Regions from separate parts of the Homo sapiens genome. Here region 2 is linked to region 1. A link means that fine-mapping ties the variant in region 1 to the expression of a gene that starts in the linked region. Tissue or cell type: whole blood. Region 1 holds a variant in brackets; the other region holds the start of a gene. All regions are shown on one strand. Distances are from middle to middle.

What was found. PIP is the estimated chance that this variant, and not a neighbour inherited with it, causes the effect.
Region 2: it holds the start of MCC, and the variant in region 1 is fine-mapped to the expression of MCC in whole blood (TOPMed, PIP above 0.99). The same link has a PIP of 0.9 or more in blood mononuclear cells.

Annotation. Positions count from the first base shown.
Region 1 is chr5:113,059,434-113,064,433 of GRCh38, reverse strand. It overlaps MCC (MCC regulator of Wnt signaling pathway), which reads left to right. Exons shown (of 19, transcript NM_001085377.2): 14 at 267-450. Among named protein-coding and RNA genes, the nearest start is that of DCP2, 85 kb to the right of the region's middle. The variant C/T (reference allele first, on the strand shown) is at 1,970.
Region 2 is chr5:113,485,993-113,490,992 of GRCh38, reverse strand. It overlaps MCC (MCC regulator of Wnt signaling pathway), which reads left to right and starts at 2,540. Exons shown (of 19, transcript NM_001085377.2): 1 at 2,540-2,748. The coding sequence starts at 2,579. RefSeq lists an enhancer at 2,347-2,641.

The DNA.
Region 1 (5,000 bases):
TGTGGTGATCCCATTGGTTAACTCCTACACTTGTCCCTGAGGCCAGTGGAGCCCAGAGAAAGAGCAGAGAAATACCTTCCCACATGTAGCGTCTAAGTGATAGTGCCAGGCCCAGAACACAGATCTTCTCTTCGGCTGGGCACTGCCAATTCCCTTCCACAGTGCCACCTCTGCCCTAAGTAACAGAGTTAATTATGCATAGTCCCTCCCAGGCGTGCCTTGTCCAGGCCTATGTTGATTAATCCGTTGGCTTCTCTGCCACATAGGAGACCAGTCGGGGGATGAAAACATCACTCAGATGCTCAAGCGAGCTCATGACTGCCGGAAGACAGCTGAGAACGCTGCCAAGGCCCTGCTCATGAAGCTGGACGGCAGCTGTGGGGGAGCCTTTGCCGTGGCCGGCTGCAGCGTGCAGCCCTGGGAGAGCCTTTCCTCCAACAGCCACACCAGGTAATGCTCAGCCTTCTGCTCTGGGGTGGGCGTGTGTCCACATGGCATCTGTTCACTGGACTTGGTGTGCAGTGACCCAGCTCTTGGGGACTGTGTGGCTTGGGAAAAGGCAGACATGGCTTCTGGCATGCAGCCTGCTCCATCCAAAAAGGAGTCAGAAGATCAGAACAGAAGAGCTAGAAAGTGGCCCTCTCACTTTGCCAATGTGGAAACTGCAGTCGAGATTGGAGAGATTTGCTGTGGAAAGTGGTAGAGATGGAATGCAAACCTACCTTTCTGTCAGATCCATTTTCTCTGCATTGTTCTGTTCTCCATTTCTTTATAAGTCTTCATTTCCAGGAAGCACTTAGGGTAGCCAAGAGCCGTTTGCTCCAAATGGTCCCTCTGGTCCCAAGGCCCAGCCCAGCTCATCCTAGTTCCAGACATCACTCTCCTGTCTTCTTGTGCCTCCATCGTCTATAAGCTCTTCTCAGGCAAGAGCCTCTCCTCTCATCTCTTTTGCCTCATGGAATGATGCCACATTCACAGCACATGCTTACAGGCACTCAGTCATGAACCTGAGGTCAAGTTCACTGTCTGTGAATCTAGGAAATTAAAGTGGGTGCTTGAAAAAGGAAGCTAGGAAGAGAGCGGCGAAGACCTTGCAGAGCATAATTTGCTGAAGTCATTTCATTCTTTGGATGGGAGTGGAGAGTCAGAACAAAACCCTTTCTACTTACCTTCTCATTTCTTGCCACCAAAGCCCTAAAAACACGAATGCCTTCCCTTTATTTACCAGTCCTCAGTTTAGAAGACACTTTGTTAGAGATTCTTACTTAATTGCCAAATCGTGAAAGACTTGGAAGGGTAACTTACTCCATTTTCACAGGTTAGGAAACCTTGGCTCAGAGATAATGTCAGTGACCTGCCTGGTGATAAGAGGGAAACCTGGATGGGAACCCGGGATCTTAGCATCGAGCATATTGTTCTTCCCACATTGGATCTCATGACATAACAAAACAGTGTCTACTTGCAGACTAAGTGACCAGAACTGCATAAAGATAGATTGACTGTTGAGAGCCAGAGGAGAAATACTGATGCTTTCTTGGTGCTGGAAAGCAACTTAATGTTCCCCTCTCTCTTTCTCCCCTGGTGGGACCCGCCATCTACCTTAGCGCTTCCATTTACCTCTACTGGCCCAGGTGTCCCAGGAGAGGGAACATGCCCAGTAATGCACTCAGCCAGGTGCCCACAAACAAAAGGGACTTGATTCTTCTTTACTTCAGCAACAATTGTCTCATTCAGTGAAGCACAGATTATAATTTTTTTCATAAAACCATATTCTACTGTGTAAACACAGAAAGCAGATGCTCTTCTTAATGACTCTTCCAGATGTGTATAATCTATAATTTGTGTGTTTATTTAGTATAGAAATGTAGTTCTCATGTTGTCAGTGATGCTGTGTTGTTTTATTAGTGAACATAAGAGTTTGCTTGACAGGAAATGTGTGCTGTTTCAGTAGCTTATGAGGTTTGTGCTA[C/T]GGATCATTTGCTCAAACCTCCCTACCCCCAAAAAGAATGTTGTGGTTTTATTCTGAATCAGAGACAAATTTAGAACCAGTCAGGAGGGAGAACAATTTTATCACCATCTATTTAGCTTTTGAATATTTGTTAGAAGTACTTGAACTTACAGGTTAGCCTTGATTTTGAGACTGTTTTCTTAGAGAAATTTAATTTGGGATCCTGTTTTTCTGCAGATTGAGATAAATTCAAAACACAGAGTCATTGTTTCCAAGGATAACCTCACCAAAGAATGGTTCTTAAATTAATTTCAGTCTCAAATGGATCTTCCCATCAAAGTACAGAGGTCTTTAGCTCCAATGTCACCCAATTCTCCTTAAAAAATCACTTTTACCCTCCCGCCCAAATCAGAGCAGCTCCGAGGATGGAAGAACCACACACGAGGCATTCATTTGTCACTCCACATTCTTAGAACCTGATGCAATTAGACTGCTTTATGTTAAACGTGGGTTTAGAATAAAGTCCCAAAGCACCAGACCCCTTTCATAATTATGATAATTATAGTAATTTTGTTTGTAAATCTTGCCATTCTGGCTCAGACATTCCCCCTTGTCAAGTTTATGAAAATAAAGAAAAGGATCTTTCTGAGTTGGAGCTTTATGTGGCCCAGCAAATCTCCTTTCCCCCCGCTGTAACCACCCAGCTTCAAGAGGTCTAATCAGAGTGTCCATCAACTGCCCCTCAAGGGTTCAGGAAAGAAACGCTGAGTATTGTGCCTCCAGCGGCATTTCTGGCAGCCCATAGGCAGCTCCTAACGACAGGAGGGTTAATGGTTTTAGAGAGGAGCAGCAGAGGGGTAGTTAACCAGCAAGGAGAATAAAAGTGATAGCCAACCCTCAGTTGACTGTTGGCAGGTGCCCAGGGTCGGTGCCACTTCATTTTTGAAAAATATAGCCATGGCCTCATCAGAAAGTATAATAGTCTTATGGACAGAGTGACTAGGTTGATTGCCTGGATGGCTTTATCAACATATCATGACAAAGAGGCACAAGGACTAAAATGTTAGGAAGTGGAAATAGGAATCCTTGGTCAAGCCCACCCTCTGTGGCAGGCCTCACAGTTCAGCTCCTTCTGTGCAGCGTAGTCATCGATCTCAATCCACAAAGGAACTGTGGCCAAGACAGGATCGGCCACAGCAAGTCTGTACTCTCAGAGACTGAAATTGAGTCCCTTGTCTCAGCACCAGGTGGGGACCCTGGAGAGCTGTGAGAATGGTGGTTGCAGCCTTGCCGTGAGCCTCTAGGTACCTCCAGGTAGCCAGGGTGCTGCCTGTGTGGCCACTCACTCTGGGGTGTAATCCCCAAGTTGGACTGGACAGCAGCAGAGCTCAAGAGATGCCTAGCTCTCACTCTTTGAACTAGTCTGGATTAAGGTAAAGTTTCATTGGGGCAGAAAAAATGGTTGAGGAGAGTGAAATCATGTCCATTGAAAGGGTGAATTTTTTGAAACAGCCACCTAGTTAGAACAGGCATCAGTAAGCTTCAGGGAATGAGAGTCAGACTAGATCTGGCTGAAACAGTCATCTTTACTGAGGAGAGGTGCTTTTCCATCTGTGTGTCAGGAGAGTCTATCCAAAGTCCTTGAGACAAACGCTTACTGGTGTTAGTGAGCTCTAGAGACCAGCCCCGACACATCCTTGACATGACAGCATTATGATCAGTCCTCCTGCTCAAATGTCCTCATCACTTACCTTTTAGGTTCTATGAGAACAAGGTATAGACATGGAATGCTTTTTATGGTTTTTTTTCTAGTGAGATCTAACTTCTTGATTTCAAAAGAACTGTATGTTTGTTGTAAAACTAAGCAATTAAAATGCCAGCATTGCAAAATGCATAGGATGGTAAAGTTCTCCATTCTAGGACTCTCACTGGAAAGGACATTGGACTGACCCCACTCATTCAGATAAATTTCAAATGCTCAGCAAAACAGATGCCCACCCCCAGGGCACTTTCCTTCTAAAAATGAGCTGCTAGGCCGGGCGCAGTGACTCACACCTGTAATCCCAGCACTTTGGGAGGCTGAGGCGGGCAGATCATGAGGTCAGGAGTTTGAGACCACCCTGGACAACATAGTGAAATCCTGTTGCTATTAAAAATACAAAATTTAGCCAGGCATGGTGGTACATGCCTGTAGTCCCAGCTACTCAGGAGGCTGAGGCAGGAGAATTGCTTGAACCCAGGAGGCGGAGGCTGTGGTGAGCCAAATCATGCTATTGCACTCCAGTGTGGGCAACAGAGTGAGACTCTGTCTCAAACAAACAAACAAACAAACAAACAAAAAGAGCTGCTCCTTGATGGAAATGAGATCTCAGCTAGGGCCAGGTAAGATGTTGATGAAAACTTCAGGAAAATGTCATCACGGATTTTCAAGGCAAAAGAAATGAAATGTCCTTCTAGCCTTCCACCAAGGCAAGCTGAGGAGGCTATGAAAAATGAATTTTTCTTCTAATGAGCAGGCTGGGGGACTGTCTTGAGGACAGAGGTGGGGCATGGTGGAGAGGGATAGAAGAGAGGATATTTGACGTCGATAGCTGGTTTGAACAGCTTCTCCTATAGTGGACAGGGTAGGTGGAGAGTGGGTCGGCCCGAACCGTCCCGAACCAGCCAGCCCCGCATTCCCACCAGGCTACAGGCCTGCTGTGTATGCTTTGTGCTGGAAGAGCTGCTGGCAATGAACAGATGCAGAGGAAAGCCAGCGTGACGGGAGCTCCAGCAGAGCATCACGGAAAGGAGAAACCCACACATCCTAGACTAGCTCCTCAAGAAGCCAGAGCAAGACACACATGTGTGGCGAGGGTTTTTGTCATTAGCCTTCCCCCACAGTCGCTCTCAGAGAACACAGACAGGCTCCTGTTCTGGAGAGGAGGAATAATGCAGCCACAGAAAGTGATTGATTCCCCCTTGACAACTGAGATCATCCAGCATTCCAAGCTGGGAGAATTAATGGATGACTTAACCCTTGCCCAGCAGCCAGCAGCAGGCCCTTGGGAGA
Region 2 (5,000 bases), 430 kb before region 1:
TCTTATGATTGTAAATTCCACCTTTAAAGTTTTTTTCCCCCTCTCACAGCTTGATGTAAGTGGTTAAAAGTAGCCATGCTGCAGCCTGAATGCTTTACTGCTTAGATATTTCTTTGGCCAGATACCCCAGTTTCTCTCTCTCAAGTTCAGCCTTCCAGAAAGCCCTCAGGCATAGAACAGTTCAGCTAAGTTCTTTGCCAATTTATAACAAGGATGGTCTTTACTCCATTTTCTTGTACCTTGTTCCTCAGTTCCATCTGAGACCTTGTCAGAATGGCCTTTACTGTCCATAGTTCCATCAGCATTCTGATTATGACCATTTAACCAATTTCTAAGGAGTTCCAAACTTTCCCTGTTCTTCCTGTCTTCTCAGCCCTCACTAGAACCTAGGCTTTTTCTAGACTGCTGCTTCATTCTTGTAGCCTCTGCTCATTATCCAGTTTCAAAGCTGCTTCTCCATTTTCAGGTATTCGTTTTCGTTAACACCCCACTCCCGGTACTAATTTCTGGTCTTGTCAATTTTCTGTTGCTTAGAACAGACTACCTGAAACTAGGGTGATTTATAAAGAAATGAATTTATTTCTTACAGTTCTGGAGAATGAAAAGTCCAAGGTCAATGGGCCACCCTGCTGGTGGGGACTCTGTGCAGAGTCCCAAAACAGTGCAGGGCATCACATGGCAAGGGGGCTGAGCCTGCTAACTCAGGTCTCTCCTTCTCTTCTTATAAAGTCACTAGTCCCACTCCCATGATAACCCATTAACTCATTAACTCATGAATCTATGATTTTAGTGCCCTGAAATACTGGGAACTTAGAGAATAATAAAGAAGTAAAGTAGGAATAGGTAGATGGGGTGGAGAGGAGGAGAAAGAGAGCAGAGATTCCTTCCTTCTGACCTAGCAGACATTCCCAAGACATATGGACTTGTTCCAGTTATATATTGCTGCATAACAAATCACCTCAAAACTTAATGGCTTAAAACAACAATTTTTAATTATTATCTTCACAGCTCTGGGGGTTGGTTAGCCAGTTTTGCTCAGGGTCTCCAATGCAGTTGCAGCATCTAGAGCTAGCATCATCTCTCACTCATGTCTGGCACCTAGTCTGGGAAGATTCTAAGATCCAGGGCTAGAACAGCTGTAGCTCTTTGGTCATCTCCTTTTTTCTTTACATGGTCTTTCTGCATGGTTTCTCCAGCTTCAGGGTAGCCAAACTTCTTTTCAGGCAGCTCAAGGCTTCAAAGGTAAGTGTCCCAAGGGAGAGAGCCAAGTGCAATCTGCATTGCCTTTTCTAACCTAGTCTCAGAAGTCAAGGCAGTCACAAGTCCAATCCAGGTTTAGGGGAAGCAACAGACTCCACCTCTTGATGAGGGGTGCACCAAAGAATCTGTGGACATATTTTAAAACCACCAGAGAACTTCACACGCCTCTCTGGCAGAAAATCCAGGACAGAATAATGAGTCATTCACGAAACCACAAATTGCTTCACTGTGGTTTCCCTTTGGCTATGGGGGAATAGTGCAGTGTTTAAAGGCTCCTGCTCTGGAGTTAGGCTGCCCGGGCTTGCCTCTGCCCTAACACTTACTAAACCTGGAACCTTGAGCAGGTCTTGGTACCTCAGTTTTCTTACCTGTAAATTGGGAACAATGAGAGCTAACAGTTGTTGAGCACTTACTAGGTGTCAGACATTGTCCTAACTGCATTATGTCTGCTCTCCTTTTATATGTAAGATAACTCTATGAGGTACTTATCTATTAATACTTCCTAAGTCGTAGGATTGATAATAAAAGAGGCATCTTCCAGGTCTGTAGTGTGGATCAAATGAGACCATCTATTATGTTCGCTCTTGGCATTATTAAAGCTGTTGGGGGAAATTCTAGTGATGCCTGGCCAGTAGAGTGAGCCGTTTCCAGAAATTGACCCAACGTACACAATGCCACACAGCGTGCAGACTCTTCCCAGTACAGAGTGGGAGCCAAGATGAGGGCTGCGAGGGCCAGGTTTCTTGACAGGTGTCAAAATTTCATAAAAAGGCCAGTCATTCCGGTTCTCATTGGTGGCTATGGGTACAGAACCCGGAACAATCCTGGAGAGTGGGATTACAAGCACCGTTTTGAGTTTGCAGAAGGAGAGTGTTTATATAGCTTCTCTGGAAAAGGAAGCCATGACTCCGGGCGGTCGGAGAAGGTCTGCCGGGAGTACACCTGCCCTCTGCCTGAAGCGTCCCCAAGTGTCCCGGGCCCGCGTCGTTGCCGGATGCACAATGCTGACACCCTTCCCGGGGGCTTCCAGTGTATTCTGCCTCCTCTTGTGTTCCCGTTGCCACCCTTAGCTCCCTGACTCTTCCAGCCACCTTCCCCTCCTCCCTCTTCCCTGAGGTGCCTCCTCGGGCGATTCCAGAGCGCCCATCTTCCCAGTCCGGGCAAAACCCGGAGAGGTGGAATCCCTCGCCCGGAGCGCCCCGGCGGCCACTGGGCATGCTCCGTTGTCAGGCAAGTTCGGGGCTGCAGGCAGCTTGCGCGCCGCGCGGATTCCAGCTGCGGTCGCGCGTACTCCTCCTCCCAAGTAGGGAGCGGGCGCATGATGGCGGCCGCGGCGGCAGCGGCTGCGGGGAGCTCCAGCAGCGGCGGCGGCGGCGGCGGCAGCGGCAGCAGCAGCAGCAGCAGCGACACGTCCAGCACCGGCGAGGAGGAGAGGATGCGGCGCCTCTTCCAGACGTGCGACGGCGACGGGGACGGATACATCAGCAGGTACGCGGGGAGGTACGAGGAAACCGACAGGAGCGAGATCAGTCCCTCCGCGCGCCCTTGACCCCTGCTCTGCCCCCTCGCCCCAACTTGCGGCAAGTTGCTCAGAAGCTCGCGGGAAAAGTTGGCCGCGACTCCGAGAGCGCGTAGCCGGCTCGGCCACGAAGGCCGAGGGGACTGCTCTGTTCGCCTTGCGGGGGTGCCAGTTGGTCCAACTTTTCCCAGCGCTGTCTTTGTCTAGGCGTTGGGAGACATCTCCTTAGGATGCGCACTCTTCCGGGGGCTTGGAGTGTTCTTCCCTGTGGGAAAAGGAGTTCTGGCCGCTTGTCCCAGGTAGGAGGGGCTGCCCCACAGCCTCGGGGTCCTGGGCATCAAGATGCCGCAGCACGGGGCAGCGATCTGCCCGGCGGCTTGGTGGACACCCCAGGGCCGCACCGGGAGGAGATGAGCTAAGCGACAGCCTCGGACAGGGAAATAACCTGTGAAGAAACTTTCTTGTGCCGCAGAACCCATGAATTCCAAACTTCAGAGCCCAAAGAATGGGTATCGTTTGCCACCCAGTATTGATTTAAACGCAGTAGCCTGAGAGGAACGAAGCGCTCAGGAGCAAACTAGGGCTAGACCCGACTCCTACCCGGCTCTGTGCGCTGACCAGGTGAGCTTCGGCGTGGCTCCGGGCGCCTCCGCGCCTCCACTCACAAACAAACTTTGGGGTGTTTGCTTCGGATCCCCCGCACTTCCTACAGAGGCGGTATTTAAGCTTCCTGCCTCCCGGCTTGGCCAAATAATTACTTCTGCCCAAATTTGTGTCACTTAGACTCTTGTGGTGAAGAAGGCAATCGCAACATTTTCTGGTATGCTTCTATTGAATGGTTGACACCGGCCATTGAAGACTTGGTATCCGTGGAAATTTGAATTGCCTTGGATGAAGGAGCAGCCTAAGTTGTGCATTACATGTTTCTTTAGTCTATGTCTTGGTGATGCTAAAGATCGTTTCTGAAAATCCGGGGCTGCTTCCTGATTGTCCCTGCCTACCTAAAAAAAAAAAAAAGAAAGCAAAGTGCGGAATTTTTCCCTTAAAATAAAAAAAATTATTTATTTGGGACTCAACGCAATTTTGATCATTCTTAGGTGAATTTTTATTACTTTGCTAAAGTTTTACTGAGAAACATTAGGAAGATATCAGAAAACTTGATGGAGTAATTCTGTTCGGAAATGAAAATAATATGTAATTCTGATTGACTCCATGCAAATTTCTATCTGGAAGTCTCGTTATTTTGGTTCTGGGAGTAAAAGAAATTTCATTATATAGTTTTCCTTTTTGTTGTTTTCCTACTTGAAAGGTTATTATCTCATTTGCAATAATAAAGGCAAACTCCAACTTTGGATACAATTTTTTTTTTTTTTAGACAGAATCTCGCTCTATCACCCAGGCTGGAGTACAGTGGCGTGGTCTTGGCTCACTGCAACCTCCGCCTCCTGGTTCAAGAGATTCTCCTGCCTCAGCTTCCCGAGTAGCTGGGATTACAGGTGCCCACTACCACTCCCGGCTAATTTTCGTATTTTTAGTAGAGAAGGGGCTTCACAATTTGGCCAGGCTGGTCTCGAATTCCTGACCCTAAGTGATCCGCCCGCCTCGGCCTTAGGAAGCGCTGAGATTACAGGCCTGAGCCACCGCTCCCCGCATGGATGCAAAAAAGTTTAATTTCACACGGGCAAGAGTGCATACAGAAAACTAGCAGCGTGCTATCCTTTTCTAATTTGGCCTATTAATATATTGCTTTATCTGAACTACACTTTCTATATAAATGCTCACATTATTTTCGGTGATTCTACCCGGGAGGATAATGAATTCTGTAAGCGTAATTTGAGTAAAGTGGGTGGTGATAAAGAAGCCGTTTTGGATTAGAGTAGAAACTGGCTGGGGCAAAAGTGGAAAAAGTTGTTAACATTCCTTGAGCTGCATTACTTTAATGTGTCTGCTTAAAAGTTTCAAGGTATGTGTAGTAATGAACCCTAAATCATAACTTTAACTGTGGGTGGAGCTGCCCTGAAAATTATGCTGTGGCAGAATTGCCATGTAGGAGAAGTTTAGGGATGGCAATCTAGGGCAACAAGGAACTTGTCTGGAAGTGTGTTTACCTGGTAAGCACAGTTTTACCTGGAATTTACGTTTATGTGGTAAGACTTGGGGAATGGGGCTAATGAAGGTAAGGGGCATTAAATGATTCCCTCTCTGAAGCCACTTTTCTGTG